3 separate regions of the Homo sapiens genome follow, and all the other regions are reported to be linked to region 2. Evidence: microRNA targets listed by miRTarBase, many of them from high-throughput screens and not tested one by one. Region 2 holds a microRNA gene; each other region holds the end of a gene's coding sequence.

Region 1 (10,706 bases), not on the chromosome of region 2:
CCATGGAAGAAAGAGTAAGTGACCCCATTAATGATCCACAGTTGGTTGATCTCACAGCAAATCACTGTCAGGTCGCTTGTACTAAAAACTGGAGAGGCAAGATAGGGTTATGTGGAAGGGGACTGCGGTGTGTCTCATTTCCTTTGCCTGTGGATAGGAAACAGTACTCAAGGGAAATAGTGCTGATGAGTGGAGAGAACACAGAGATGGTCCCTTCTCTTCTTAAGTGATAACTGCGCTGAAAGGCTGCTAGCCTGGAGGTTGCTTTACAGAGTGCCACATGTAATGCAGGTGACAGTGGCACCATGCCTCATTTTCAATTTCAGACCCTTCCAGAAGCCCTGGGAATTCAAACATTGAATATCTCTTAAAATATTTTACAGAATATACAGCAAAATTAATTTCATGATATCATAGACTCTTCCTCAGAATCAGACGGGCTCTCCAGATCTGCCTAAATACACAGCATTTCCAAGGAAGCCTCAGGAACATTAAAGAACATGAAACACTAAAGACCTAGGAAAAGCTCACCAGAGCATCTTGTTCATCCTGTGCTTTCAAACACACGGATTCCTCTCTAAGCCCTGCAAGGATGGGGACTGCTCCCTCCCATGGGAAGGAATCCATTGTGTTACAAACCCTAAATGTAGGTGTTCGTCTTGGTGACTTAAACCAAAGTCCCCTCTGCAACGCTTTAATTTCATTTCCTTTGTTCTGCTCCTTACCCACAATGGGGAAGAGCTGGTTGCCATCATCCACAGGTGAATCCTTAAGACACCTGAAGTTGGGGAACTTTGCCACAATTCCATGAGAACCCCCTTTGTTAACATATTGAAGAATTTCTTACCAAGATTAGCCATTGCTATTTATCTGTCATTTCTCCTTTCTTTTATGACGGGGGTAGGGGAAAACCACAAGATGACTACATTCATGTTTATGCTGAATAAAACCTATCGAAAATTCAGAGAGAAGGAAAAGTGCACACAGCCAACCCTGGTTCATTACTTGTCAAACCTGGAAGGAAGAGCAAACTAGGAGAGGGTTTGTTAGTTTATAGTATGCTGTAAAACTGGGAAAGGGAGAGTGACTATTTGCATAAATTCAGTTAAAAATAACTTTTTGGAATCTTGCTGCATTTTTGCCTGAATTACACGATTAAGACTGTATTGAGATTAAAATCACTTTTCACTTATTTAAGGAGCAGCTGTCAGCAGCACTTTGAGCAAATGAACTTGGGTTCTGAGGACTTGAAGCTTGAAAAATGATGTTAGGGAAGCTTATCCACCAATCCTAAAACATTTCTTGTAGCCACTTCATACCCAGAAGTAGATTTGATGGCCACTGTTCATAATGATCTGATTTCTTCTGGCCAGAAGCTGAGAATGAAATGACATGTTATGGACAAAGAACTCCATGATCTCTGAAAGGAAACAGAAGTGCCTTCTGGACTGGTTCAATGATCACATTCTATCTAACTCTTCTGTTCATCAATTCTTTCAGCTGCTGCCTTCTGTGGTACAGCCTTCCTTTCTAGACCAGATTATCCTGGAGGCCTGGTTTTGCATTAGAAATTATCTGCCATGTGCCTCTAATTACTTTCATTCCTCTGTTCTGGCCTTTTCTCATTATCTCCTTTTAGAGAAGGCATCTCTCTCTCTCTCTCTCTCTCTCTCTCTCTCTCTCTCTCTCTCTCACACACACACACACACACACACACACACAGAGGAAGGAATGAGCTCATTTATACCAACTTACGGATCCTAAATTGATTTCATTTCCCCCAAGGAAAAAATATCTAGAAATGTGCCTATAGACTCCCACGGTGCTGTATATTCTATATATTGCCTCATGGTAGGGAATTAAATGCATCATTTCTGCACAGAGTTTTTATTTTGTTGAAGGTAAACTCAGAAAAAGGTGGCTTCTTCAGTCTTACTTTGTCCTACAAACAGCTGGATGAAGTCTTGATCCAACAGTATGGACTTTGGCTGGGTGGACTTGGGCTCATTAGTGAATATTATCTTTTTATGTAATGTTTCATTAAACAGCTAAGTCCATAAGTGTTCCCAAGATATATAACTCTCAAGAAAAAAAAAGAAAGAAATGATTTGCCAAGTAAAGAACTATGATTTATGGTAGTTAGCTGTTACTCTCAGGATCCTATTGGGCTTTGTTTTGAAAAATTATTACCACAATGGTTCTGTAGAATTTAGGAATATAACCAGCGCCGTTTGGCACGTTTATGACAATAGGGTTCTGGTTTTCTTAACTCCACAGTTACATGTTGGCAGAATTTCAAATTCTGGGCACAGATGTTTAAGTGAATTTAAAGAAGAAACATTAAAAACAAAGCATCAGGCAGTTTTGAGTGTCCAAATGTAAGCAGGAGCATTATTTTCTTAACATGCAGTCAGCATGCGCATAAAACCATAAATTTGCTAATAGATGAAATGGGAAGCATGAAAACCACTTGCAAAGGGCTTTTAGATTTTCTTTTCACTGAATGAACTATCACTTTTCTAGAAGCATCTCCTACTTACATCTATCAAATGAGACTCGAATTTATGTGAGCCTTTTCTCTGGACACAGGTTAGTTTCTGGAGCGTGAATGGCTAAGCACATAGACTTGTTCCCATCACATAGGGCCACATGGCCATACCACCAAGATACCTGGCTCTCACACTAACAACGCTCAGATTCTGGGAAAGCAGCTTTCTGGAAACTTTTTAAATGCACAAGTAGGCTAGGTGCGGTGGCTCATGCATGTAATACCAGCACTTCGGGAGGCCAAAGCAGGAGGATTGCTTGAGTCTAGGAGTTGGAGACCAGTCTGGGCAACATAGTGAGACTGTCTCTACCAAAAACAAACAAAATTAGCTGGGCCTGGGGGCACGCATCTGTAGTCCCAGCTACTCGGGAGGATGAGGTGGGAGGATGGCTTGAGCCTGGGAGATAAAGGCTGCAGTAAGACATCATCGTTCCACTGCATTCCAGCCTGGGTGGCAGAGCAAAAACTGGTCTCAAAAAAAAAAAAAAGAAAAAAAAAAAAAAGGACAAGTAGCAAATAGCAAACGTGCTTACATGTGAAGGAGTAAACATGGGTTGTAGGGCACTCCCCATGGCCTGCCCAGAGGAAGCTACTGAAGCCGCTGTCACCAATGGGCAAAGTGTTCCCTGACCCAGCTTCCCAGGGCCCCACACCCATAAGTGTGCTGAGTCTCCACACACGCACACAGACTGGCACAAGCTAGCAGGGCATTTCTGGAAGTGATCCAAGTCCTCCTTATCTGCTCACCACCCCATGTCCATTGACGAAATAAAATGTAAAAGTTCACAAAGCAAACAAATCGTCTCCCACTTACTGGCTGATGCTTGAAATGCTTCCTTTAGAGAACATTTTTATAGTTCATAAAGAAAAATCTTAGTTATGAGAGACAAATCAATGCTGTCAGATCACGCACAAATATACTCCTGGAAGGAGCCGGGGGAGATCAGGGCACCCCAGAGGGTGCTGCAGAAGAACAGGGGTGGGGGCAGGGGAGAGACAAATTGCATTGTGTTCAAAATTTGTTCTGGTGCCATCTGTACAGTATGGAGATGTCGCTCACTGACCCTTCACTCAAGACACTAGACAAATTTTGGTAAAGCATGAACATTTATATTTAATTTACATTTTGACAATTTGCACATAAATAACATTGTAAACCAGTATGTAAACATAAGATAGTTTGTTGTTCTAGCAAAGTAAAAAGCCAGTAACTTTGGTCAGTTTTAACTTTGAGTAGAGGAAAAAATAAAACCACTGTTGATTGTGGGCTCAACATTCACATGTAAGAGGCAGAAAAGAGAAGGATGGATGGTGAGAGAAGCAAGAAGTCTTTATAAAAATTCTCACTATGGGAAAGCACAAAAGGAGAAAAAGAACAAACGAGTAGTTGGGAATCAAAAGTATTTGGTCTAATGTCAACGTGATGCTTTGGTTTACCTTCAGTTAAGGACTGTGTTTATCAAACACTGATACATAAAAAGCTGTCAGTCTTGGAAGTTACAGAAGACCAGTAAGGCTCTTGGGTTTCCCTGGATTATTCGAAATTTGTTCTCTTCTACAGGTGAACATTAGTTGATGTGAACAAAATGTCAAATATAATTATAAAATAGATTGGAGTAATGTATCAGTATTTAGTAAGGAGGAAAACAGAAAAATTGCAGCGGTAAAGTCAGTTTTTTATTTCTGTGACTTGGGTGTGACCACATAATCATAAAGTGGCAAAAAAAAAATAGAGCTGTCTTAGATGGTCCTTAATACTAAAAAATGATGTATCTCTTCCTCCCTGGTTGTTTTGTGGTCCCCACCACTGCACCAAGGTTTTAGGGTCTCTTACAGTAGGCAAGGGTGCCCAATCATACCGACGTGATTGTGAGGTCACCAAGTATTAAGCAAAGTCTCAGAAAGGAGTGTTCTTTTTTTTTTTTTTTTTTTTTTGCCCTTAGAAAAAGTAGATCTTTTACATGGCTTGGCTCACAATTTAAGTGGTTATAAATATATATACATATGATATAGTGGTATAAATAGATTTATAAATATACATCATTTTTTGCTACACTTTGAACACCAACATGTAATCTTTGGGCTTAGCAGAATAAAAGATAGAATAACACAAAGTCTATCTTGCTGGAGCACATTTACTCGGTTTCTCCTCTAGAGAAGCAAATCATTAGATAAGACATCATTTCCTGCACTACTGGACACACTCAATGAGGTAACTGTTGTTGAACAACTTTGCAATGCCCTTTCATCTTCCATTAAATTAACCATAAAATGTAAAAACACAAATACTGAGGAAAATCTGAGTTTTACAGAAAAAATACAATTGATGTGTTGGGGATAGGAATGTTCATTACCCGCTTTTACCCCAAGATGACTAGAATACCCGTTTTTTGTTGTTTGTGTGTTTGTTTTTAAAGTGTGGCCTGAGCCTATCTACCTCGAATCCTTCCTGGTAGAGCACCATGTTTGTGCAATTTTGACATTAAAAAAAAAAAAAAAAAAAAAGCAACAAAAACCAACAACAAAACACCACCCAGACTCAAGCCCCCAAATCGCACACACACAAAGCCACCTATGCTTTGGGGAAATTTTCGCAGTGGTTTTAAAACATGGCATTTTTTTCTTCTTCACATTTTCTGATAATACAATGGATGCAAAAGTCATGTGGCCGCTCTGAATGGCCACAGGACTCGGTGGGGAGGGCAGGGCGGTGGGAGGATTCTGCTCTTTTGGAGGGAGAGACAGGTTGGTAAAGCCTTCCTGTCACCCTTCCGGTAAAATTGTGGCTGGGGGAAAAACATGAACTATCAACAAAAATATACAAGATTCCCTTTCTTGTTTCTTCTACTTAAGTTATTCTTGGGTAATCCTGCACACATACCCCCAAGTTATGTACAATGCTGTTCAAATGATAGGATCCCAGGAATGAACACATCAACTGTCCAACATTGGCAATTACCCAAACCTCATTTTCAAACCATTATTAGAGAGAGAGGTTGACTGAAGTCATATATTTGTTTAACTAAATCTTAGGTACTTATACAGATGTGCAGAAATTATCTACAAAGAATGGCCACAAGACAAAAATACATTTATACTCAAATTACAAGGAATCTTTCCAGTCATTGTAAACTTTTTTAATTATTGCTTTCTGAATGATAAATTGTATAATAAATTATGAAGGATTATCATTGAAAAAATAATTATGACTAGGTAATAGTCTTAGTAATGGGAAGGCTATGCAAACATGTCCACACAAATATTCAAAATACACAGGGGCAAATATATAGACACAGGTGTAAATAAGTATATATAATATGTATACAGATATATATATATATATATATATGGCCTTTGCCTTGTTCATGCCCTGAGATTTCAGTAACTTTGGAGTTCCTTCTTTAATTCCAGAGGTGAGGGGAAACCATTTGCTGTCGAGAGAGCTTTGCAGAGCTGGGATTATGTACAAGCCACTTCCTACAGGCACCCTGACTCACCAAGTCATAACTTAAGAAACAAAATAAGTGTTTTCTGAAAATCTTAAGGATCCATTGGTTCAACTGTTTCTTGTTTGACCTTTACAGGTACCAGAGGTAGTGGGTTGCTGGGAGGCAACTTCATGAGGGGTAGATCTGATGACTCATAAAGGCTGCACCCTGAGGAGAGGAGTCCATTCCCCATGTTTCTTTGCAAAGACACTTTCAGGCCAGTTTCTTCTTTCTCTTTTCTGACCACGGCCAGAATTTCCTTCTCCACTACAGAGATCACACTGATGTCATCCTCCACGTCCTCGAGCCGGTCAGCATTGTCACTGATGTCAAACTTCTCGATTTCTTCATTGATTCGGGTCAGATCTTCCAAGGGCAGCCCAGGCGCCGGGGCCGCAGCGCAGTTCCCTTTCAGGTGAACCTTGAGGCTACAGAGATGGATGTAGTTCTTGTGGCACTGGGAGCACTTGTGGGGCCGCTCCCGGGTGTGCAGACGCTTGTGCAGTTTCAGGTGCACAAACTGGGTGAACTTGGCAGGGCACACCTTGCATTGGTATGGTTTCTCTCCAGAATGGAGTCGCAGGTGGGTCTTGAGATTGCTGGTGCTGCTAAATCTCTTGTGGCAGACCTACAGTGTAGGGGAGAGAGACAGCAGGGAAGGGAGACAGGAAGGCCAGAAGATTAAGAGTTGCCAACGGGAGGGGCAGGCTTACCGGCCAACGCCCAGCAACCTAGGAGGTGAGAAGCCTCCTTGTGGCACCTCCAGTGTGGTATTAAGCAAACGGGGGGATGTGGGCACACAGCACACGAGGGGCTGTTTATTTCCCCTACCATTTTCCCACCCACTGGAAGCTGGCTGTGCCATCTCAAGTCATCAGCAGATACAAAGTACTGGGAAGGACCATAGTGCCATCAGTCCAGGATGGGACAACGCAGAATCTGGTGTTGGCTTTAACTACGGGCTATATAGGACATGGGAGGGTGACTCACAGACATTTTCTACAAAGGTCAGAAGGTCTACCCAGAAAATACTGCGCACCTGGCATTCATGTGGCTTTTCTCCCGTGTGTACCAGGTAGTGTTTCTGCAGGTGGGCGAGCTGAGTAAAGCCCTTGTTGCAAGTCTGACATTTGAAAGGCCGTTCTCCACTGTGCACTCTCAGGTGGACCTGGGAAGAAGCCACATGTGTTAGCTCTGCTCTCAAGCTGGCTCTGAGACCTAACATTTCTGCTCCAAGACTCAAGTGTTGATGCAAATATCTTAAGAAAAGCATCAAGACAGTCTTAAAAAGAAGAAATCTTCATGTTTTCAGAATGGTGTTTTTCTTAAAAGCACAAAAATCACAGGCTAGCAGGGAGTTTCACCTAATCTTCTAGTCCAAACCCCTAATTTTTTTATTATTCAGAAGAAAATCAGGAGAAGGGAAGTCACTTGTCCAAAGTCAAAGAGCTAGAAGTGGCAAAAGCCAGGCGGAATCCATACCCACTATCCCCAACCGGGGGCTCATACTACTGCAAATGCAATCGATACCCCATGGAAAGCAAGCTAAATACAAACACAAGCATGCACTCACAGCCCCTTGGACTGCTCTCTCTCAAGGCCTACCTTCAGATTGGAGAGCTGGCCGAAAGTCTTGGCGCAAACGTTGCATTCGTACTTGATCTTGCCGTTCTGCTTCTTCAGCGGGTAGGGAAGGGTCTTGTAGCCGGTCATGTTTCTTTTGTTTTTAATGAGATTCATGGCTTCGTCGCTGCTGGGGGCTGCCATCGCTGCTGAGGTAGCTTTGGGCTGCACCACATGTTCTGCCGTGGCGGCTGTTCCCGCCGTGGGAGACCCGCTTGTGGGGCTACAGGCCTTGTCCTTCATGCTGGCGGCGGCCCCGGTAAAGGAGAAGGCACTGTGGGGCGCCGGGACAAGCACCTCCCTGGGATGCTCCGGCTGGAGCAACCTCCGGGCTCCATCTGAGGGCAGCGAGCTCGGGAGAGAAGTGGGGTTGAGCATGGGGTGGGGCAGGCTGCCCCCACCGAGGAGATTGCTGTAGACAGGGCACAGCCTCGGGAAGAGGCCAAAGTTGTTGATGCCATTCATGCTGCTCACAGCGCTCAGGCCATTACAATTCATGCCGTAGGGGGGCAAGAGGAACTTGGGGTAGTGAGCGTTGTACGAGGGGATGAAAGCTGGCGGGAGGTGGGGCAGGGGTGCGTAGCCAGGGTAGGAGCCCAAACCTTCCGTGCCGTAGGACGCGTTCAAGTAAGCGTAGGAGTCCCGGTGCTCTTGAGAGCCGGGGCCCACAGGGGACACCGTATTCCCAGGGCTGCTGTGAGGGCTGGAGCTCTTGAGGCTTTGGTCGGGGCTGCTTCTTGCAGAGGGGCTTGGAGTGGTGGAGGATGGAATGGGGGAGCGAGTGATGTACGTGGGTCTCTCGATCCCGTAGGCCAGGGAAGCTTTCAAAAAGTCTTCTGGCAGAGGGGCCCGGATGGGGTAAACGACCCGAGGGTAGAAGGGCATTTCGGGGCTCCCACGTCTTCTAAAGTCATCGAGGTCCTTTTCTGATGTGAGGGGTGAAATGTTAGAACGGTAGAGGTCCTTTCCTTTGGAGGGGTTGGAGTCCAATTTTAGGATTTCTTTCACGCTGTACTCTCTCTTTGGGACATTCTTTGGGCAGAGTTCATTTTTCTCAGTGCTCGGTTGCTTTAGACTGCTCTGTGTTTGTGCTGAAATAAAGAAAAAGGGGCGATTACACAGAGGGCTAGAGAGAACTGAAGCAAAACTGCCAAAGTTGCTCCTCCTTCTTGAGAAAACCTGAGTAACAGCTGGCGACACAATCGCCACATATCTGGCTTCCAACGCACTCTCATTCTAGAAGGCTCTGGGCCACTCACTCAAAAGTGCAGTTCCGTTTCCTCCTCAGCAAAATGCGGACAATGGCAGCACAGACAGAACAAACAGCAGCCTTGGGTGATTCTGTTTTCATTAGTACAGACCTTATGATAGAAAATTGCTGTTTAGGCTGGAGTAAGATAGCCTAAGCTGGATGCAGTGGCTCTTGCCTGTAATCCCAGCACTTTGGGAGGCCGAGGTGGGCGGATCACCTGAGGTCGGAAGTTCGAGACCAGCCTGACCAACATGGAGAAACCCCATCTCTACTAAAAATACAAAATTAGCTGGGCGTGGTGGCGCACACCTGTAATCCCAGCTACTTGGGAGGCTGAGGCAGAAGAATCGCTTGAATCTGGGAGGTGGAGGTTGTGGTGAGCCGAGATTGTGCCATTGCACTCCAGACTGGGCAACAAGAGCAAAACTCTGTCTCAAAAAAGAAAAAAAAAAAAAAAACTTCCATTTTAATGGAGTGGAAAAATACTGGGGTGGGGACCCTGTCATAGGTTAATAAAAGTCTTTCTGATGTTCATGGTTTACCTAAAGGAAATCAGCATACCCTGAGAACTAAATGTGAAAGATTAAGACTCATTTCAAGTAATACACAGTCATCAATTTTCGCTTCTACTCTTGTTGAATACGAATTTGATAAAGCCCTGTTCAAACTGCCTATGCCAAGGAGCTTAGCGAAGTGAATACCACCTTCCTCGCGATGTGCAGACAGCCTAAGCACTTCACCAAGGCTCTGTCTGGTCTAGCCAGGATCCCAGCAGTGCTGGCCCCTGGAGTCACAAGGCGTGACAGTCACCTCTGCCAAACCACAATAGGTACTTCCTGAGCCAGTTCAATTACTTAGCGCACCCAAGAAAACAGAACAGGCTAAGAGGAAAGCACTTATTCCCAAAGACGGCACGTTATTACTTGGTAAAGATACTATTTAGGAACAGCAGCAATGAGGACAGTTCTAGACTATCCCTGCCACAGCCAGCCCTGTCTCCTCGCTACACAATAAATGATGCCTTCAGGAAAAAACACCCATCTGGGCAGGGAAAACTGAAAATTCCCTGCTCAGCCTTGCCTGGAAACCAAAAGTAAAACATACGATGTTTAGTTTGAGCTCTGATTATTGGAGGACAGTCACTCAAGCCAGGACACCTGCCCTAGGAACGCACTGAAGGCATTGGCTGTCAATGTGTGGAGATGCCTTCAGAGGCAGCAGGTTTGGGGGATCATGCTGAAGCCTTTGTGCAAATATCCTTCATCGTCTAAAAAATGTCTCTGCTTGAATTTAGTTGAGAAAGAACTCCACACTTGCTATCTGATAGGTCTAGAAATGAACTCTGTGAAACTCCAGAACTGAACCCTTTAAATGTATTCTCTAGGCTGACTGGCTTGAGGGATTCGATTCCAATTTGAGAGCCCCTTAGAGAATGTTATCTCCTGCCAGCGGTTATCAGTTCCTCCTGGGCGAGCCTGAAGCCCCAGAATAAACACAGAGAAGAACGCTATCAGGGAAGATGCTGACGGGGGGGCCGTGATGGAAAGCTTGCTGAGGGAGAGGGATTTCTGAAGCCACTAAAACAAAATAAATATCTCCTTATCAGGCCAATATCGGTCTTTCAGTGAGGCCCAGCAGGCAGGAAGTTCTAATTGTCACTTTTGTTTTTTAAAGCTAAAATGGTAAAGGATGAGAAAGACAACTAAGCTTGAAAACTGATAGGCAAGGCATCTCACAGCCACAGGAAGGAATTTTATGAAGGTGAAAAAGAATTATTTGGAAACATCTATATAGG
Region 2 (10,706 bases):
CAGTGTGCCAGAAGGGCCTTCTGGTCCTTCTGATTGGAGAGATCATTTAGTGAAGCTTCCACACATTTGTTGATGTTCAGCTTGGGGATCCCTTACGCAGATAGCTGCCCCACATGGCTCCCTGGACCAAAGAAAGATCATTAGTATCTCAGAGATTGGCAGCAACTCCAATGCGAGAGAGTAAAACTCTGAAGACCCTGCGTCGTCAGTAGGCAGGGGAAAATGCGTCAGATTAAACAAGAATCTGTACTGCTGTTTAGTAGCCAGTGGCATAGAAGCCGGGGACTTCTAGTGTATTTCAGGCTCTGTAGAGGCAGGTGATGTAGCCCAGTCAAGTGGGTTTTCATGCCAGTTCTGCTGAGTGATGGTCACCAGGTAAGCACAGCTGATGGAGACTTGAAAACAGCTCTCGAATGCTAAGTGTGGAAATATTTGAGATAGAAATGGAGGAGCCGTGGTCAGAGTCGATACTGTTAATGAACGATCAGAAAAAAACCCACAAAACTGTCATAGTCTAGAATTAAGAGGAAGAACATTCTGGCTAAAGGCCAGGGCTCCTTCTGAATCTCAGATCCTTGGGGATCTGTGTTGGCTGCCCCAGGGCTGTGGCTGGGGCCGGCTCCCCAGGGCTCACCGAGAATGAACAGGAAGAACAGCCAGACCAAGTGAGAGTGATCGGCAGCTTGCTAACCCAGCCTGCTGGTGTCCCTCTCTGCTGCCCCAGGAGAGACCCCGCATCTTCCCCACACACTGCTGTGGGACTCAGGACACCTCGGGTTCAGATCCACATCTGCCCTCGGCAGCCCTGACCCTGGGCCTGTGGCTGAATATGTCTGAGTCCCTTTGTCCTAAAATGAGGTCGAGCCAGGTGTTCCTGGGGTCTTTCCCAGCCCCCAACTGAAACTGAATGCCGCGAGGCAGCCAGCCGGCCTTGGGAGGCCTCCACACAGCAGCAGTGCCAGAAATGACGACACAGGCCTCAAGCCCGCTGGACAGATCCCCCTGGCCCTGTGGTTAGCCTTGGCTTTGGCCCTTAACAGGGCAGACGTGGAGGATCTAGTTCAAAGCAGTAGCTTCGGGGCTGGGAGCAGCCCCTCCCCTGGAAACCTCTTGGGAAGCCTTCCTTCTGTGTGTTCTGAGGTGGTGGTAGCTCTGTAACAGCTCTGGGCACCTCCTGTTCTTTCTTTCCTTTGGCTTTCTTTTATTTATTTTTTATTTACAAAATAGAGATGAAGTCTCGCTGTGTTGCCCAGGCTGGTCTCGAACTCCTGGGCTCGAGCGATCCTCCTGCCTCAGCCTCCCAAAGTGCTGGGATTACAGGCGTGATCCACCGTGCCCAGCCTGTCTTTATTTTTATTTTATTTATTTGTTTTTCCAGCTTTACTGAGGTATGATTGACAAATAATGTCTGTTTGTAAAATTTCAGTCGAGTCATAGATACCAGGTAAGGCAGAGAGTGGGAGGGAGACTGAGGCCTTGGTCTGGTGTTGGGAGCACTGCAGCTCGAGTCTTGGAGTCAGGAGGGGGTTGTTGCACTTCCCTGTTCTGCTCCTTTTTCAGCTTTCTGGTTCCCTGTAGCTTCTGGAACTGATTATTTTTGTTTCTTTAATGCTGCCCTGTCTTGTAAAAGGAGAGCCATTAGCATCATTTGTTTTCAGGAGAGAAGCAGATTTGAAGGCTCAGGAACTTCCTGGGAAAGGTGACCTCTTTTGAGCCAAGAGCTTTACCCCCTAGTTTTTTGTTTTTTTTTTCTCCTGTCTACCTGGAGCTGAGAGGTTATCCCTTTCAATCCCTCTCAAGGTCCAGAATCACCAGCTAGGGTTGGGTCTGCCCCTGGAGCACAGACTCCTCCCTTGGGGACCCCAGAGCCCTTATCAGTATATCAGTAAAGGGCAAGAGAACAGAGATTGTTCAGAGCAGAGGAAAAGTGTATTTGTTCCCCAGCCCCACTCCATGAACATTCCCCTGTCTCAAAGCACATACTTAGGCCTAAGAACAGGATAGGCAGGCCAGGCACGGTGGCTTATTGCCTGTAATCCCAGTACTTTGGGAGGCTGAGGCGGGAGGATCACTTGAGGCCAGGAGTTCGAGACCAGCCAGGACAACATAGCGAGACCCTGTCTTTATATAAAAAAGAAAAAAAAGATACAAGTCTAAGAAGAGGCTGGGCAGTGTAAGTGTCCTCAGCCCCAGATATCATTTATTTGCTTATAAGCAAGAAAGAGGCGTGCCAGGGTATGAGAGTTTTAGAACAAGACTTAGCCTGTAAGTGGGAGAAGAGGGAGAACTTGGAGGGTACAGGGGCGCAGGGTGCAGAGCACTGATCAGAGAGGTGCGAGGGAAATGCAGCCACTCCATAAGGACCACGCCCTGTAGGACAGAGGCGCCCAGGTTAGCTGCATGCAGTGCAGAGGGTCCCAGGACCAGGGATCAGCTGTGAGGGACTTGGGTGGGGGGCCTGGCGGGTTAGGGACTGCCCGGCTTCCATGCTGCACACAGCTGGGAGCAATTATGCCTCTGGTTTGAGCTGTGCTGCTCCCTCTGGGTGGCCACACCACCCCCTCCCTCCGACCAATCAACCAAAGAAGTGCTTCATCTCGAGTTGGAAGTATGTCACCCCCGCCCCCCACCACCAACAAGGAAGGACCCTCTTTGTCCCTTTCCCAGTGACAAGTGTGAGTGAGCTTGGCTTTGGCTGGTTCTTCTCTAACAGGCTGACAACAGGGAGATAAACTCAGACCCAGCACCCAGGAGGTGGGAACCTCAGGGAAAGGACACCGGCTCTCCGTGTTTGAATCTGATGTTCTTTCTTTCTTCTCATGTGGCAGAGAAGAGACAGGACAATGGACGGGTGTATTACGTGAACCATAACACTCGCACGACCCAGTGGGAGGATCCCCGGACCCAGGGGTAAGGACTTGGGCTGAGAGGGGGGCCGGGCTGGGCTGGGTCTCTGTGCAGCTCCAGCACTGGGCAGGTGGCTTTGGACTGCATCGTCCCAGAGGGCTGATGTCAGGGACCTTTAGCCACACACAAGTGTCTTGAGACTCTCACCGTACAGATACACTGTTGGCCTGATGAGAGCTTAAAAGGGGTTTCTTAAATAGACCTTCCTGGTGGATGGAGGGCGGCCCGGCTGGCGGGTGTTGCTGGTCTCCATACTGATTGTGCTGGCTGCTGATAATTGGATTGCAAAAAGGTTGAGGGCATCCTGGTCTCCCAACACCCCCAAGTGAAGCTGTGCTGGGGCACAGGGTGCCTCAGGATTGCTGGTGGCTGCTCAGTCCAATGCCATCCATGCAGGGCTGGGTTTTTGGCCATGAGATAATAAGTGACCTCTCCGTGCTGCAGAACTGTTCTCACGACTTGGGTCATGCTTCTTGGGTGCATGTCCTCAAAGTCCCTCATGGGCTCTGCAGAGACAAAGCCACACTTTGAGGACCCAGCCTCCAACCACCAAGGTCCAGAAGGTGGGGCCAGCCCTTCACCCTTTTCTTCCCGTGTTTCCAGGATGATCCAGGAACCAGCTCTGCCCCCAGGATGGGAGATGAAATACACCAGCGAGGGGGTGCGATACTTTGTGGACCACAATACCCGCACCACCACCTTTAAGGATCCTCGCCCGGGGTTTGAGTCGGGGTAAGGACTTTGTGCAGGTAGCAGCAGTGTCAGGAGCCGAGGCCCAGGCTGTCCTTGTTCTGGCTCTGGGAGGCCCACTTTGGGTGGCCCCTGTGGTGCGTTCTACTGCCCTTACTGCCCTCTAGTGGCCAATGTTGATGTCATATTAAAGGGGATGGGAGGATAGCTTGAGCCCAGGAGTTTGAGACCAGCCTGGACAACATAGCGAGACCGTGTCTCCACAACAATAAAAAAGATTAACCAGGCTGAGAAAAATGGCAAGACCCCATCTCTACAAAAAAAAATTAAAAATTAGCTGGATGTGGTGGTGCATGCCTGTAGTCCCAGCTACATAGGAGGCTGAGGTGGGAGGATCCCTTGAGCTCAGGAGTTTGAGGCTGCAGTGAGCTATGATGGCACCACTGCACTCCAGCTCAGGTGACAGAGTGAGTCCCTGTTTCTAAAAAATAATAATACATTTAAAATTAGCTCGGTGTGGTAGCACACTCCTGTAGTCCTAGCTACTTGGAAAGCTAAAGCGGGAGGATCGCTTAAGACCAGGAATTCGAGGCCGCAGTGAGCCATGATCACACCACTGCACTGCAGCCTGGGTGACAGAGCAAGACCCCGTCTCTAGAAAACGAACAAACAAATAAATAAGATGGGATGGGGAGGAAGGGACTATCCTGTTTATTCCGAATGACACTAGAGTTATTTCTCTAAAAGCAAGAAGTCTGGCTTTATTTCTAGATTTTCTTTTTTATTCTTCAAGGATCTTAATGACAGTCACTTCCTCACCTTACATTACTAATCTTTAAATTAACATAGCACCAGCTTTCCTTAGGGCTGACAAAGACAAATTGTTCATTTTCTGAGAAATCGCATGAACCCCTGAACATCTTTGCTCTTCCTAGGACGAAGCAAGGTTCCCCTGGTGCTTATGACCGCAGTTTTCGGTGGAAGTATCACCAGTTCCGTTTCCTCTGCCATGTGAGTTCTGGTACTGGGGCTCCCGTGGCAGTTGGGGTTATTGAGTTATTTCAGTGTGAGTTCCCGGCACAGCAGCAGGTATCGGAATGTTTGTGTCTTAGGCGGGCGCAAGACACTTGTCTAACCCGGAGCTGGCTGTCTCTAGGAAGCTAGTTTTCATTCCTAGGGCACATGCTATTGCCTCCTGGCCCAGCAGGCTGGGGAATGCCTGTTCATACAGACAGGAGAACAGATGACCACTTGAGGCTCGATTTAAAGTTCTTTTCTTTTTTTTTTTTCAGTCAAATGCCCTACCTAGCCACGTGAAGATCAGCGTTTCCAGGCAGACGCTTTTCGAAGATTCCTTCCAACAGGTTAGATCATGGTGCCCGAAACCAGTGGCAGGCCGACGCCCTCCTCCCAGCACCCCATCTCCTATCGCGTGGCCTGTTAAACCCACACTGCAGACTTTCCAGGGCGTGAGTCTTGGTGACTGTGTCTGCTGGATATTGGGCCTTAGAGTCCCCTGTCCCTCCCGCCCCTGCCTGCTGTGGAAGGGAGAGTGGCAGGCTGGCCCGATGCTCTGTCTTCCCAGATCATGAACATGAAACCCTATGACCTGCGCCGCCGGCTCTACATCATCATGCGTGGCGAGGAGGGCCTGGACTATGGGGGCATCGCCAGGTGAGCTTGAGTGCCCCGGAAGGCTGCCCTGTACCCCGCTTCCCCAGGCTACAGCATCAATGGCCAGAAAGCTGCCTGCCCCCTGCTCACATTCCCTCCCAAAGCTCTCATGCATCTTCAGGAATGGGCACAGTGTGGCATTCAAAATACGTGAACCCGCCAGGCGCGGTGGCTCACGCCTATAATCCCAGCACTTTGGGAGGCTGAGGCAGGTGGATCACCTGAGGTCGGGGGTTCGAGACCAGCCTGACCAACATGGAGAAACCCCGTCTCTATTAAAAATACACAATTAGCTGGGCGTGGTGGTGCATGCCTGTAATCCCAGCTCCTGGGGAGGCTGAGGCGGGAGAATCGCTTGAACCTGGGAGGCAGGAGGTTGCAGTGAGCCGAGATCGTGCCATTGCACTCCATCCTGGGCAACAAGAGCGAAACTCCATCTCAAAAACAAAACAAACAAAAAAACAAAATACGTGAATCCATGTGGCCAGTCCATTGGGCCTGGAACAGGGGCCTGGGGTGCCCCACTGGGCTGGACATTAAGCCTTTAGTTACTGGGTCATGAGGCGACGGAGGACTCCTGGGAGGGGCGAGAGCTCAGTACAATGGCTCTGTTATCTACCAATGTGTCATGTTTCTGTACTTTAACAACCAGGCCAGCAGCATCTGGGCAGTTGAATATAGGGGCCATGTGGTCATCCATTAGAGTTGACCCTGGGATCCCCTCCTCTTAAGGCAGCCAGGGCAGGTGAAGTCAGGTGTCCCCGTGTGGATAAGCTGTGTCACGATCCACAGGGCCTTGAGCAGGGCTCAACTGCATGTCACATGCCTGGGGTCAGTAAAACTGTAACGGCTTATGTCACCCTAAAAAGAGTCCAAAGCATTGTCTTGCCTTCACCCTGGTCCACCCATAAAAGTTAACAGGCCCTCTGGGAAATGCTGCCTTGGACAGCAGGGCAGAAGGGCCCCGGCAGAGAGAGAGAGCGCTGTGGCCCGCAGCGACCTCTCCGCTCGAGACCTCTCCCGGTGTGGGCATGTCTTCCCGCTTGGTGTTGGGTTAACTTGCTTCTGGTCCTCTGTTCGGTGGTGGCGTTGCCTTCTGCGCTGGCCCCGTGGATGGATGTTCCTTTTTTCCGTGGTGACCTCCTCTCCAGGCTCTGCTTGGTGGGCTTCTGGTGTGGCCGCGCCCTGTGTGTGTCTCTCTCTGTGTCCTGCCAGTGGTTTTACCCTATGGTAGGTTACGTCATGCTGTTCTACCACAGGGTAGAACCACGGACAGGATACCGGGGCACCCTCTGCGTCGACGGACTCCTCGTCTGCCCAGCCACAAACAGCCCAGCAGCTGGGGACTGGCCCCCTTGGGACATCCCCTTGCTGGTTTAGCTCAAGCCCAAAAGGACTCTGAATTCATGCCTGAGGCTCGCACCCAGGGCACGGGTGTTGGTTCAGATGAATGCGTGGAAGTGTGGGAACGGGGATGGTGTTGGGGTCTGGGGGTGAAGGGAGGGCAAAGTGCAAGAGTGTTGCATAGCTGGTGGGCATGAGGTTTCTCATCTGAAGGCAGCATGGATTACATTGTCATGGATCGGGGTTGGAAATGTGTTGCTGTGTATTTACGTTATGTTGCCCGCCCAGGTAGAGTGGAAACAGGGTAGTTACTATTCAAACAGAACCTTTGCAGAAAAATTATTGTAATAAACATGCATCGTGCCCTTGTGCAGTGCACAGCCTAGGCAACTGAGCATGGTGACCCAGGGTACAAGGACCCCCTTTACCATTAGAAGCTCTGGATATTGTGATGTAAAGTCTTGGAACACATCACCTGGGAGCCGACAATCACACGTTTTCCCAAATATCATCCTCAAATGCAGTTGCCGCCCTGGTTCACTGTAGGTCTGAGCCTGCCCTGTTCACTGACCAGCTGTTCATATAGGTTAGCCCGGGTGCTTGTCACAGGGCTCGACTCCCTGGGACACGTGTCCCCATACTAACCTGAGACACGATGGTGAAGAGACACAGCTCCTGTGCAGATGTGCACGAAGGGACCCATTATTCTTGTCTTTTCTGTCTCTTCCCTCACAGAGAGTGGTTTTTCCTCCTGTCTCATGAGGTGCTCAACCCTATGTATTGTTTATTTGAATATGCCGGAAAGAACAATTACTGCCTGCAGATCAACCCCGCCTCCTCCATCAACCCGGACCACCTCACCTACTTTCGCTTTATAGGCAGATTCATCGCCATGGTAAGGGGGCCCCAGGGGTCTGCCTAGTTCCCTCCTCCTCTCCCTCCTCTTCCCTCTCCTGGTGAAGTGTGCCAGGGGCACCAGGGGAATCTGCTCTTTCTCTGAGACCTCCAGGAAGGGGCAGCATTGGAGGAGGCCCTGGGCCTGTTCACCAGGAGGCAGCGTGGCGTGAACGGCAGCCCCCGTGGACTGGCTCACCCTCTCGGGGCTCCACCCTTTGCCCCCATAGAGCTCGTAACCTAAAAATGCAAGAAGCTAGAGAGAGTTCTGGAGAAACCAGAGCTTTCTCAGTGGCTGCCCTGTAGGTAGTGAAGAGTTTCCATGTTGCTTTGTACAGGACTTGTCAAGAGGGAGCCCAGGGTCGCTGGGCCACAGACTTTACTGAACATTAAATATGTGCTCTGTTGAGGGCCTTGGGATGACAGGGCCAGGTGAAACCATAGCTGCCCACCTGCTGCCTGTCTCTGGGAGGTGACACTGTCACGGCATTTGGGAATGTCCCACTGAGACACTAAGCCTTCTGGAAGGGCATTTGGAATCAACACTAGTGTAGAACAAAACGTAAAGTCTGTGGCCCAGAGACCCTGGGCCCCCTCTTGACAAGTCCTATGCAAAGCAACATGGAAACTCTTCAGTACCTACAGGGCAGCCACTGAGAAAGCTCTGGTTTCTCCAGAACTATCTCCAGCTTTTTACATTTTTAGGTTACCAGCTCTATGGGGGCGAAGGGTAGAGCCCAGAGAGGGCGCGCCAGTCCATGGGCGCTGCCGTTCACGCCACGCTGCCTCCTGGTGAACAGTAGACTGGCTGGTGCAGGGTGTAGGGACATCTGTCAGAAAGTGAGCCAGTTCTGGGGAGGGGCGTCCCAGCGTCTGTATTTAACTGGAAAGAGGGACACAATGTGAATATGGAAAGGGAGGTCCTGCCACGTGCCCCGTTGAGGGTCCTGGGAGCGTGGAGAACCCGGATTGAGAAGCGGAGCCCGTGGGAGGCACAGCGCGGGAGCCACATGCATAGCTGGAGATGTTTCAATTCTCCTTTCCTTCGCTTCTTCCCCTGCCTTCCTGAGTGTCCCACCCGGCTCCCCTCTTAGGAGGACCCAAGCGCCCCATGAGCCTGTGACTAAATATGGCCGGCCCTTCCCATCGTCGAGGAGTTCTTGGCCAAGGTGCTGGGCTCTGGAAATGGGCACATTCTTCCCAGGTCTAGAGACCCGCCTGGCCCAGCAGCCAGCAGGACAGACCGGTAAAACCCTAGACTATTACTCACCATTGGCCGCCAGCTCTCGCTGTCGGCGGTGTCTGCATTATTTTTGGCTGCCTTTGCCACCCACCCTGAGCGCCAGTGAATCAGGGCTGCCACCTGCAGCTGTTCAGAGCAAGCCTTTTCTGTGAGCGTGGGGCAGACCTTTGCTAGGCCAGGAGCCAGCCGGCCAGCGTGCGGGGCAGATGCGGGCCCGGACGTGGGTTCCCGCACCAGCTGGCTCTGCCCAGTCCTTGCGGTCTGCAGGGCAGGGTGGGAGTCCCTCTGTAGGTACAAGTCAGGATAAAGGCGTTGTTTACTCCTGAGGCCCTCCCGCTGCGTCCGAGGCAGCTGCTGCTGTAGTTCTGTCAGGGAAGGAAGGCGGGTAGCGGTAGCAGAGTTTGATACCGAGCATCTGAGAGCTGGTCTTGGCAGTGCCCAGGGAAGGCCAAACCTCTGTGCTGTGCCTCTTCCTTCCCAGGCGCTGTACCATGGAAAGTTCATCGACACGGGCTTCACCCTCCCTTTCTACAAGCGGATGCTCAATAAGAGACCAACCCTGAAAGACCTGGAGTCCATTGACCCTGAGTTCTACAACTCCATTGTCTGGATCAAGTGAGTTCCCTGCCCCCTTGCCCCACCGCGCTGATAGGAGGGACGTCTCTGGGTGGGAAGCAGGTACTGATGGCCTTTATTTTGTCTGCCAGTGTGGCCCCTGAGCTCTTTTCCAGCCTCTATAAGAGCTTGTGGAGAGGAATGTCCTCTGGGTTCCCTGGGGACAGTTCTAGAACCTTCTCCTTGAGTCAAGGAGCTGTCCCCTGTCACTGTTCAGGATTCTAGGCCACCTGTGGGCCCTTGGTGTCCCACGGGCAACAGAGCAGGATCCAGGAAAGACCCTGACACGGTAGACATCTCCCCACTTGGTCTCCTGTGCCCCCAGAGAGAACAACCTGGAAGAATGTGGCCTGGAGCTGTACTTCATCCAGGACATGGAGATACTGGGCAAGGTGACGACCCACGAGCTGAAGGAGGGCGGCGAGAGCATCCGGGTCACAGAGGAGAACAAGGAAGAGTACATCATGTGAGTCTCAGGCGCCGGGGGCTCCGCTCCAGGGGTGGCGTGGAGATCTAGTGGGTTGCAGAGAAAGATGGGCCCCCACCTGTGGCCCATCGGTCACTGTGGATGCCATTTGCATTTGCCTTGATGGTGGCTGCTGGTGGGCGGTCATGTGATGGCGCGAGCTGGGGGAACCAAAGCCGAGGTCCTTAGTTACCGACTCCCAGCTGTGCTTTTTCGCCATGTGGGAGACTTCAAGCCTGCAGCGTGGAATTTCTTTGAAGTGGCATCAAGCTGAGACATCTGCATCTTTCTCCGGGCCGAAAGGATCTCTGTGGCCTGTGTGCCTAGACCCACCGTCTCACGTGTGCCCGTTCTCCGTGCCTGTTCCTCAGGCCTCTTGCTTTAGTCTTTATCTCCACGCTTCCATACGTCTGAGGTTCAGTCGGCGCTGGGGGCAGGAGCAGGAGGAGGTGGTGGTGAGGATGATTTCAAAGACTCCGGTGTCTGCAGGTCACTGTGAGGTTTTCAGGGCCTCACTCTAGGTCCTCCAGCAGGCTGGGTCTGGGTGTGCGAAGTGGGCTCTGCTGATCTGGTGGTCCTGCGCGGTAACGGCCACGCGGCCTGGCCGGGAGCCACCCCTGAGCAGTGGGTCTCAGACTCCACCCATGGCTGCTCTTTGGTCTCAGGCTGCTGACTGACTGGCGTTTCACCCGAGGCGTGGAAGAGCAGACCAAAGCCTTCCTGGATGGCTTCAACGAGGTGGCCCCGCTGGAGTGGCTGCGCTACTTTGACGAGAAAGAGCTGGAGGTGAGTGTCTGAGGTTGCTGGGACCCTGAGCCCCTGCCTCTGGGGCGATCCTGCTCTGTGATACGCTCACTGTGTACCCACAGACAC
Region 3 (10,706 bases), not on the chromosome of region 2:
CAAATTTTTGCAATCTTTTATCCTGTTTTCTAAGTATAGCCCCAGTTTCTCTAGAAGAGGAACCAAAGGCTCAGACAAAGGTCATTGGCTCCTTGCCTGTTGGGGATCATGCGTCATTTTTTTAAAAAAGTGATTGCCCTGAACCCAGGATCATGATGAAAGGCAGAGAAACTCAGTGGGAAAAGTCAGATGTACTGAGGTTTGCTTCTAGTTCCAAACCTGCCAGCCAGGGACTCTCAGTTCTCCTAAAATGCCAAGCAGACTCCGACTTTTATGCTCTTCCTTCTCCCCCTTTGCTCTCTTCCCTCCCTCTCCCCCTTCCTTTCTTCCTTCCCACCCATCCACCCATCCGTGCTCTCCTGCATCAATCCAGCCATCCATTCAGCCTCCCTTCTTCCATCCATCTATCCTCTCATCCTCCTTCTCATCACTCCGTCCATCCTCCCATCCCTCTAATATTTGCTGGGTGCCTCCTATGGGCTTAGCATAGGAGTTACACTGATGAGTGAATCAACACCCTCCTTGCCCTGAGGCAGCAACTGGGGCAGTAGAGGAGAGGATGGTAATCATGTAATCACAGTGCCAATGTATAATTACAAATTGAGATGAGGGCTACAAAGAAGGGCTGGACATGGTTACTATGGAAGTGTTTGACAAGGGAACTTAGCCCAGCCTCTGGATTGGAGGACAAGCAGGAAAGATCCAGGGAGTGTTGCAGGCAGAGGGAGTAGCTCATGCCGGGGTCCTGTGGTTCATTTTAGAAACTGGCAGGAGGCTGGTGTTGCCAGTGCAGGGAGTGATGGAGAGAGTGGTGTGAATCGGGCTGCAGAGCTCAGTAGGGGCCAGTGCACACAGGGACGGCTGGCCTCTGCCAGGCACTGGCTCCTTGGAACTCCTTTGCACTGGCTCTTTTGCACTTACCTGGCTTCTTGTTACTTATTTTTTAGATCTCAGTTCAGGGATTTCCTCTTCAAGAAGTCTTTTTCTGCCCTGTGCAGGCTGAATGAAGCCAGTATACTTTCCTTTAATAAGACAAAGTATCTCAAATTTGGAAATAAGGCAAAAGAAGGCAGTGCTTCATCTCGTTGCCATACTGGGGCACGGTTTAAAAGCCCCACTGAAGGATTAGTTAGTTCTGTAGAAGAATATACCTGAGTTTGTCTTTCCTATTTGATTAAGGCCCAGATTGGGGCTAATTTGTAGACTTTTGTCTGGTGGGTGCAAATGGCTTCTGTCTGGCAGAAAAAAAATATCTCCAAAGATATGGCCTTATTGCCTTGTGGGACATTAACCGGATTGATCTCTAACTTGAAAATGTTATTCTCACCTTCCTTTTTCAAAGCCTCTAAGTGCCCATTTACTCTTGGAACCAGCTCTTGCCCCACTGCTGGCTCACTCATTAGTGTGTTAATTCTGCACTTGTACGTCATGTTTGTCACGCCCTTCTCAGCAGCGCTCATCCCTGCACTGGGATTGCCAGTGGCTCTGGTTCCCTCATATATGAGCTCATATGGGTGTGGTCCATTTTTTGTCCACATTGTGTCCTCAGAACTTTGCACAGGGCCAGGTTCCAGTAGGAGCTTGAGAAATAATTACTAGTTGAAAGATCTTGAACTTATTACCTCTCCACCTCTCTGAGCCTCAATTTTCTTCCCTGTGAAATTGACATTCCATTTGTAAAGAATGTGAAGGTTCCATGAAGTAAAGAATTCGAGTGTCCAGAGTCCAGCGTGGCACATGGTAGGCTTTAGTCTCCCTTATCCTAGGGGCTGAATCCCAAAGGTAGAGCGTGAAGTTCTGGTTTGGGAGCTCATGTCTGGTCAAGAGGACACCAAGTCACTGGAGGAATGACTCATGGTGGGGCTAGGGAAGTCAAAGGAGTTGCTATATAGTATTTCTTGGGAGAGGAAAATCAACCTGGCCAAGGAGTCCAGCAGGGGCTGGGGAGGAGCAGGAAATGTTCTTAAACAGGTCAGGTGGTGGTATAAGGCAGAGGACTCCGAAAACCAAGCTGGGGTGTTGCACCCCATACCCGAAAGGTTGGTAAGAGAGACCTATCTCAGGCTAATGAGAAAGAGAGGGACTTGATAAAATTATTCGTCAGAAGACCCACCATTGCAGCGATGCTCTAATAACCTGGCCTGATATGTGAGTGTGTGGGTGTGAATGTGTGTGTGTTTCTGTGCATATGTCGACTGCTGTCTGCACCACACTGCTGCAAAGAGTCTTAAATCTACTTTCTCATCGAACTCTCGCAAGAACCCCCGGAGGTGAAGGCTGCTACTATCCCTGTTTCACAGGTGACAAAGCAGAGGCCCAGTGGTGAATCTCTTTGCCCAAGGTCACAGGGCAAGGACTCTGGGGTGCAGTTGTATCCGATTCCAATGGGTGGAGGAGGAGGAAAAGTGATGGAAGGAATCTCAGGAGATGAAGTGATAACAGATAATGGCTTATGCTTGTAGCCATCCTTAATCTTTGTGCTGTTTAGCATCTTTCACTGTTTTCTGTGCTGTTTTGATCACGGGGATGTTCATCTTTCCAATGAACTCAGCGACACTCCTTGGGCCCCTCACTGGGGCCAGGCCCTGGGCTGGGTTCAGCTACCGAAGATAAGGTGTTGACACTAACTTTAAAAAATAGATTGGCCGGGGGTGGGGAGGGGCAGGCATCAAAGGTTGAGGGGGACAGGGCTGGGCATCTATCTTTTAAAAAATTCAAGGCATAACTTATATACAGGGAAATGCACCCATCTTAAATGTGCAGCTGGAAAGGTTTTTACATATGCAACCTCCCAGATAACCACGACTCAGGAAGACGTAGAGCATGTGCCACCCCAGGCTTCTCCTGGTCCTCCCTCCAAGGGCAGCCACTCTTCTGATCTCTGTTGCCAAGGTTTTGCCTGTTTTTGAACATCAGGAGCACGTCTTCTTAAAAAGCATCTTCAATGTCATAATCTTGTATTCAGAAAAGAAACCAAGAGCCTGGTCAGGCACAGTGAAGAGGGTGGTGAAGCGGGGTGGTGTCGGGGATCCCAGCAGTGGCAGGCTCAAGGGTGCCTCGGCTGGCTGGTGAGCAGCCAGGCAGCCATATCACCCTGATGTTCTGACACTTTGGTGGTGAGATGTGGTGTTTCTGGCTACTGACAGTGTCCAGTGTATCCTGAACATTATCTATGCCCCCCACTTTCTCACTATCAGCCCCAGCCCCCATCATATGCCCATTCAGTGCTGGACTAGACCATACCCACAGTGGCGTCACTTCCCGGATGGCGACCTTGGAGCAAAATGCTTAATCTCTCTGTGTTTCCATTTCTTTATTAAGTGGGGGATAATCATAGTACCTAACTCATAGGTTTGTTAAGAGAATAAAGTGAATTAATTTTAATAAATACTTGTCCAGAGTTTAGGAGAGTGTCTAATATGTAGTATGTGTTTATGCCAAAATTAAATAAACCTTCGTCAAAACTTGGCTGTTGGAAATGTGCTAGAAGACACATGGGCTTTTACAGTTGGGCATTCAAATCTTGGGGTTGGGGGCCAGTGGAGATTTTCCTGATTATCACGTAAAATGGGCAGGGGCTTCAGGTGGAAGGCAGAGGACTCTGGCCTGGTCCTCATGGAGGAAGGGAGTCTTAGCATTCTCCTTTGCACCAGGAGGAACCCCAAGGAGGTGTCCGATAAATGCCAAATGCTTGACTGATTTCCTGGAGGGCTGGAAAAGGGCCACTTAGCTCCCATCAACTTTCATTTCGCCTGCCAGCCTCCAGCCCTGGAGATTTGGCCGTGGAGAAGCAAGGCCCAGGTGCTGCATGAAATACACCCACCAAGTCTCCTTGTCTGGACACGCAGTCCATCATCCCCCACCTTCCCAGAGAATGGAAGGCATTTCCCCACCCACTCGGCCTGGATTCATGCCTTGAACACCCCATTCCTGCAAGCAGTGCACATATTTCATGGGTTGCTCCCGGAGGGAGGCGGAGAGCTGAACTCAGGCCACGGGCCAGGAAACTGCTGAGCTGTCTGTTACAGCCAAGGTCCTGGCCTGAGAGGAGGGTGACCTCTCTGAGCCCCGCAGAAGGCTCCTTGGTTCAGGTGGTCTCTGATCACATGGACCAGGCCAAGGGTGTAGGGATGATCCCCAGTGGGCTTGTGGATCTGAGTTCAAGTCTCAACTTGACTAAAGACTCTGCGTGAGATTGGTCATGTCACATGCACTTCCAGAACCTCATCTTTCCTTCTTTGCAAAATGGGCACAACCACAGCGATCTGATAGTCATGAGAATTAAATGAGGCAGTAAGTACAGTGTGGGGGAGAAGAGTCAGATTCCCTGGCTTCAAACTGCTCTGCCATGGGACATTGGAGAAATGACTTCTCCGTGTCTCAGTTTCCTTATCTGCAAAGCACAGAGAACAAGAGTTCCTCCCTCATGTAGCTGGGAGAAGGAAATGAGTTCTAACTGTGAAGCACGCGGCAGCACACTTGGCATAGCTGTTATTAGCTATCATGGTGGTTAATTTTGCAGTCAGTGGTCCATACATGACGTATTGATTATTAACCCAGTGGCTAAGCATCAGGCACTACAGTTATCCAGTTGGAACTGGAGGCTCAGTAACATCACTCATTAGCTGTGTGAACCTGTGTAAGTTGCACCCTCTCTCTGTGTCATCTACAGTCAGTAACATAATTGCCCTTGAGTCACAAGGTTTAAGAATTCATCAAGGTAAAGCGTTGACACATAGTAACCACTAAATATTAACATATTTATGCCTTAACTTTATTACATAATTAGCACTAATATCATTAATGATCTAATGGAGGGATAGAAAGGAAACTAACATTTATTGAGCACCCACTATAAACCAGCACTTGACATCAGTCATCTGGCAAGGATATTACAGGACAAGCATTAGATGTCTGCATTTGGTGGGGAAGGAAAGTGAGGCCCCAGGAGGAGGGTGAGCCGGGTGTCCGAGATCCCATCAGTGGTGAGAGGCCACGAGACTCAGCTATGCAGGGTCAGGGCAGGAAGGAAAGACACAAGCCTCAGTGATGGCCTACCCAGTGCCAAGCGTGGGCTCAGTGCTTCCAACCTCCTTGAATCCACACAGTCACCCTGGCAGGGACTATTCCTGCCCCATTGTGCCGACGCGGGGCCCAAGTCTCAAAGAGGTGCTGTTTGAACTCCCACAGCTACAAAGCAGCAGAGCCGAGATCCAAACTCAGTTGTCTATATGGAATTTTATCTCAACCTTACACCGGCTCCTTCTGAGCCAGGGCAAACAAAAATTGTACGTCTCTAAAACCTACGTGAGGGGCTCAAATGCTGTAGGTTGTTTCCAAACCCTGGGGTCCATTCAATCCTCTTCCAGGCTTTGGCAGGAGGGCAGGCAGGCCCCGAGGCGGCCCCGGGACGCACTCACAAAGACAAGAATACTGAACACCGGAAGGACTCATTATTACCCAGAAATCTTTATTACAAAAATATTTTGCAAGCCAAAAAGTTTAAGTTGCAACTATATACAAAATGGGGCCTGTTTCCTTCCCAGCAGTCTTAAAATAAACTCCTGAAACCATGCTCCTTCCGCAGGGTTGGTTCGACCTCTTCCTTTTCCTGGGGTTCAATACACAAGGTATGTGGATTCTCCAGGTTGCCAGGCTAAAGCTAAAGCTATACATCTTCCTTGGCCTTATTCCCTTATTTCCCCCTCCAAGAATTAAAAAATAAAATAAAATGAAAATGGCACCAAGAAAACATTCTTTTAAAATACTGAATGTGTGTGTGCATGCGTGTGCACACGTATGTGCTGTCTCTGGGTAAAAGAGAGGGAGACGAAGGTTTACAAGCCAATCTTTTGGAATTTGGAACTAGCCTGAGCCAGGTGGCTGGGTCACTGTGGCTCCCAGATGCCACACGGGAGCTCTGGCCAAAGCTGTCCACATGGTCTGTTGGCTCAGCTAATTCCTGGATGCCATCATTGAAATCACCAGGTGACCATCCCCCAGAGAGCTGGGTCTATGCTGAGCTCCTGCAGTTTCACCTGTAGGACCTCCAGGAATGGGCAGGATGGCTCAGCTACTTTTACAGCCTGAGCCAGAAATCCCTTGGGCATCCCAAGGCCAGGAGTCATGAACATTAGCGTCTCAACTCTAAGAGTTATAGTGAAGACTGAATAAATAGGGCTTGCGACATCTGCTTGCCCTGGGCCCGGTCAGGCCCTCACACCCGACTGGAAGGGTGGGGGTTAAAGGGTAACTGGGTCACACCCTCTGGCCAACCTTCTGGGACAGAGGGGGAATCAGCCCGAGCTTCACAGCTGCACCATCCCCCTGGCTGTCTTCAATTTATTCCAGTTTGATCCCAGTAGGGTTTGAGAGCAGAAATGGAAGATTTCTTCTTCAAGGATCAGCTCAGAAAGCCGGGATGGGGGCGGTCACTAAAGGGGTAGGATAGACGGCCAGGGCCACTATCCCTACCCTCTGTGTGTTCCTAAAGTGCTTATGAGAGGTGGTGGGGAGGGGTGTCATCTTCACTATCCCCACTTTACGGATGAGCAGACTGAGGCATTGGGTCTCGATAAGACTGCACTGTCAAGAGGCAGCCCTCAGCAGCCCTGGGCAGGCTGGACTTACCACAGCGGGGTCACAGAAGGCTGCACTACCAGCCGCGTGGCTCAGCTGAGAACATGGCCAAGTCAGTCCCAGCCAGAAGGCTGTGTCTCCAGGGAGTGGCTGACCTGATCCTTCTTGCCCATTCTTGGGGTTCTGGGACTTGGAGGAACTCAAGTCTTCGCTGTAAGAAAATCCCTCCAGGACAACAAACTGTTAAACCTCAGACTTCACAAGACCCAACCATGGACTTCAACACATGACAGACAGCCAAGATCACGTTGCTGTTGTTTTAAGAAAAAAAACAAAACAAAACACCACAGATCAAGTTTTCTAACACCTCAGTTTCAAGATTGCACGTTTCACATTTCTCAGTAATTTACAGGCGTCCACAGCGAGATGTTGCTTAGTGCTAGCTGGAGGGGCAAGCTCAGGTCTAGAAGGGAGAGATGGGTCCGGGTGGAGCAACACAGTTGGGCCCCAGGGAGTCTTGGAGGGACCCAAGGAAGCAGAGGGTTTTGTCTCCAGTCCTTTGGGAGGGGTCCTCTCCTCCTCCAGGACTCATGGCTCTTTAGCCTAGGGATGGGGGAGGCCAGGACTGTTGGCAGCAACCTCACCAAGCCTGGATATGGGTTCCAGAGTTTTTTTCCAGCTTTTCCATGGAAGGGGCAGTTTGATCTAAAGGGGAAATCTTCCCCACTCTAGCCCCAGTTGGGTGGTGGTGGTAGTGGTGGTGGTGGTGGTGGTGGTGGTGGTGGAGGTGGTGGAGGTCAGGGGAGGTGGGATTTTCTCCTCCCCACCCTGGAAGATCAGGCTTCGGAGCATCGGGGAGGCAGTCGAGGGTCTTCAAAACCCACATGGTGATGGACGGAGGCACAAGAGTTCTTGGACCCCAGGCAGTTCTGGCCACTTCCCAGGTTGGTTCCCTGGCTGGTTTGGCAACGTCAGCCTCCAGGTATGTGGCAATGTGGGGGGAGGGGGCCGTGGCTGCCCAGGAAGTGCTGGAGAGCCAAGGAGGGGTGGGGAGAGAAGAGCCACCCTGGCCCCTGGGTCCCAGAGCCTGCACCGCCCCAGCCCTCCGGGAACTGGGTTGGCTGTGCTCATCACGGCGGCTCCCTGTGGGACAAGAAAGCGCGTAGAGATGGGTGCTAGAGCAAACCACGGTCCCATTCACTTCCTCGGGACCTGGACGCTGGCGTACTCTGAGAAGGACGGCTCAGGCTTGGGGGCCGGCTGCTTGGGGGTCCGGTTGAGGTGGACCATGTCCAGGTCAGCATAGGTGAGGGTGTCCTCCGACGCGGGCTGCGGGCTGGTCTGAATGCTGGCATACTCCGTGTGGTTGTTGGGCTCCGCAGCCTGGGGAGCAGGCTTCTTCCCCTTGGGCAGGTTCAGGTCTGCATATGTGATATCATTTGTGTCCTGGATTTAAGATACCCAAAGAGAAAGTCATGAGAAGGTCATTCTATAGCCCCTGGCCCACTCACTCAAACTGAATACCAAGTCTGGATGCTTCTGTGTCCTCTCGGCCCACACTGGCTCAGCCATAAGTCATGTTCCCCTCATCTCTTGCCAACGTTACTTGCCTCCAGCCTTGCCCCTTCCCATCTGCCCTCCTCCTCACCCTGCCTGAAGGGTCTTTCTGACCCGCACAGTGCAGTCTCCTCACAGCCCCGCCTCAGTGTCACCTCCTCCCGTTCCTGCCTCCTCCTAGCCTGAACCACCTGCAGTCTTCACCCATTTCTCATGTTCATCCCTCGAGGGTGTCTGTCCTGCTTCTCCTTGTAACAAATCCCAATCCACCATGTAAATTTCAGATGAAGCATGGCTCATACTAAGACCCTCCCTGGCTCTCCCCTCTCCTGGCAGGGTCCATGTTCCTTCTTTGTGCTTCCTCAGCCCATGTTTGTTTTCCATCACAGGGCCCGCTACCCAGGACCATGTCTGTTTGGGGGCCTGAGGAGGTGCTGCTGATGGTGGTACGTGTGGGGACATTCATTAATGTATGCGTTTATTCCACAAATATTCACTGGGCATTTGTTATGATTCAGAAACCAAGGCTGGCACATAAGAAGTCTGATCCATATTGAATGAATATATGAGTGGATGGCAATAATTTCACCTTCACTCAGGGCAAAGCTGGGGACAGGGAGACAGAGAACAGGGGCAGTATAAGAACGAGATCGCCAGTTAGTGAAGCGGGAAACGTTCTGGAGTCAGAAAGCCTGGGTTTGAATCCTGGTTCTAGCTCAGGGATTTTGAGCAATTCACTTAACCTCTCTGGGCCTCAGTTTCTCCATCTGTAAAGAGGGGATGATAATAGTGTCTACTGCCAGGGTTGCTGTGAGGATGGAATGAGATTATCCAGGTAAAGCGTTTAGAACAGAGCCTGGTACCTATTGAGCATCTGTCTTCAATAAATGTTCGCAATCATTAACCACTTAGCAAACTTGGATACCTCCCATGTGCTAATCCTATCAACCTGCCACTGCCGCCTCAAAAGCGCCCATCATGAATGATAAACTTTGCTCCCTCTGTGACTGGCCCCTGCGTGATAGAACAGAATAAAGCTACCACCAACCGGCACACCTCCTAGTTGGTGCACGGTAATGGCTGATTTCAGTTCTCAGGGCTTACAAGCAGCACACAATCACATAGATCACCCCATCCACTCTTACCACAACCCTGCTTGGGAAGGATTATCTATTCCACTTTACGGCTGAAGACACTGAGACCAAGGGAGGTTCAATAAAGTGGACAAAGTTGTCCGGCTGGCAAAGAACCAAAGTGTGTTGGACTCTACGACTGTGCTCTTAGCACACAGCTCCTCTGTCCTGAGCCCTGCGTGCTCTCATTTGCTTCTGTCTGGGAAATCCGTGTTGACAGCGTGCAACTCCCTCCCTGGCCAGGGCTGGCACCTGGCACTGGAATCGCAGGCACTCTGCCAGCTGGGCTGTGACTGTCTGGCTCACTGTCCAGTGCGTGGCACACAGTGGGTGCCCAGTAAGTCTCTGCTGTGAATTTCGTAGAGGTTTCCATGACCCATTCTTCTCACCATCATTTTTTTCCCCCAGAAGATTCCAGGAGGAAGTCCAGAAGTAAAATGATGGGGGAGAAGATCTCCCTCGCTCATGACTGGAAATTGTTTTTTCTTAATTACAACTCGAGCTCATGTCCGGGGCTGCGGGGGGACCCCATGGGTCACAAGGGCAGGGCCAAGGCATTTTGGTCTACAAATGCTGCGCCTTTCACCAGCCCGACTCCTTCAACAGATTACATCTAAAAAGATGACAACTGCCTTGGAAATGTCAAGGACAGCTGGCGCGCTCTCGTTCCGGGTTCAGAGCAGGGCCTGTCTTGTTACAAGATGCTGAGCAGCCCTCTGCCTTCAAGGTCTGACAGCATCAGCCGGTGATAAGCAGGGCTAGGTTTCTCAGAAACCGTGTTGCTGCAAAATCATCTCAGCAATGCTGACCAGAAACCTCCAGCTTGAGTGAGTGTGCCCTTGTGTGAGGTAATTAATGACATGGGGTCTTTCCATCAGCAAAGGTGGGAGAGGCCCTGGCAGGCTGGGCTTTGCAGTTCCAGCATAGAAAAGCCTGGCTGTGAGGAGCGGGCAGTGAGCTGGGAGTGGCGCTCCTGGTAGAGGGATGGGCCTGGGCAAATGTAGAGAGATGGGAAGGCACGATCCACACTAAGGGAGCTGCAGCCTGACTCCAGGGCACCATTTTCATAGGACGGATTGTGAATGGTGCCCCTGGGGAGTTGTGCAATGGGTCGCACTGAGTCATGAGGCTGCAACAGCCACTCTTGGCTGCAGTAGAGAGAAGGAATATGCACAGGACATGGGGAAAGCTAGGAGTGTAAGATCCTCCACCCTCCACCCCACAAGGAGTCTTAATTTAGAACCAGATCTGCAATTCCGGTTGATGTGAAGCAACCACGCCACGGAGTTTCCCAGGAAGGGCATCTCACCAAGGACTGTACCTGTGTTATTTCTCTGGCATTCTTCTCGGGCTCATGCAACCTAAAAAGGAAAGAGACACACAGATAAAAATACCCTCACTATCTCAAGTGCTCATGCAAACTGATAAGAATAACAT

The links. Region 2 holds the annotated microRNA hsa-miR-140-5p (CAGUGGUUUUACCCUAUGGUAG, at 6,484-6,505, shown strand). A microRNA usually pairs through its seed, bases 2 to 8, with sites in the 3' UTR of a target mRNA and lowers its output. Matches are read on the target gene's strand: a 7mer-m8 pairs with bases 2 to 8, a 7mer-A1 pairs with bases 2 to 7 and ends in A, and an 8mer does both.
Region 1: the mRNA of PRDM1 is a reported target of hsa-miR-140-5p. Seed matches in the 3' UTR shown: 7mer-m8 at 5,144-5,150, 7mer-A1 at 4,559-4,565 and 7mer-m8 at 4,530-4,536.
Region 3: miRTarBase lists SIRPA as a target of hsa-miR-140-5p. Seed matches in the 3' UTR shown: 7mer-A1 at 7,332-7,338.

What each region holds. Positions count from the first base shown.
Region 1 is chr6:106,102,869-106,113,574 of GRCh38, reverse strand. It overlaps PRDM1 (PR/SET domain 1), which reads right to left. Exons shown (of 7, transcript NM_001198.4): 5 at 7,642-8,750; 6 at 7,076-7,204; 7 at 3,637-6,664. The coding sequence ends at 6,089. Among named protein-coding and RNA genes, the nearest start is that of PRDM1, 22 kb to the right of the region's middle. RefSeq lists enhancers at 7,373-8,086, 8,087-8,801.
Region 2 is chr16:69,926,620-69,937,325 of GRCh38, forward strand. MIR140 (microRNA 140) reads left to right here and starts at 6,462; the gene lies at 6,462-6,561. WWP2 (WW domain containing E3 ubiquitin protein ligase 2) reads left to right here. Exons shown (of 24, transcript NM_001270454.2): 12 at 2,829-2,910; 13 at 3,511-3,639; 14 at 4,533-4,608; 15 at 4,890-4,961; 16 at 5,183-5,271; 17 at 7,351-7,510; 18 at 9,234-9,367; 19 at 9,693-9,833; 20 at 10,499-10,619. RefSeq lists silencers at 3,684-3,841, 7,043-7,233.
Region 3 is chr20:1,934,639-1,945,344 of GRCh38, reverse strand. It overlaps SIRPA (signal regulatory protein alpha), which reads right to left. Exons shown (of 8, transcript NM_001040023.2): 7 at 10,591-10,630; 8 at 4,753-8,025. The coding sequence ends at 7,777. Among named protein-coding and RNA genes, the nearest start is that of PDYN-AS1, 7.2 kb to the left of the region's middle. RefSeq lists enhancers at 4,655-5,154, 5,155-5,656, 7,170-7,722, 7,723-8,277.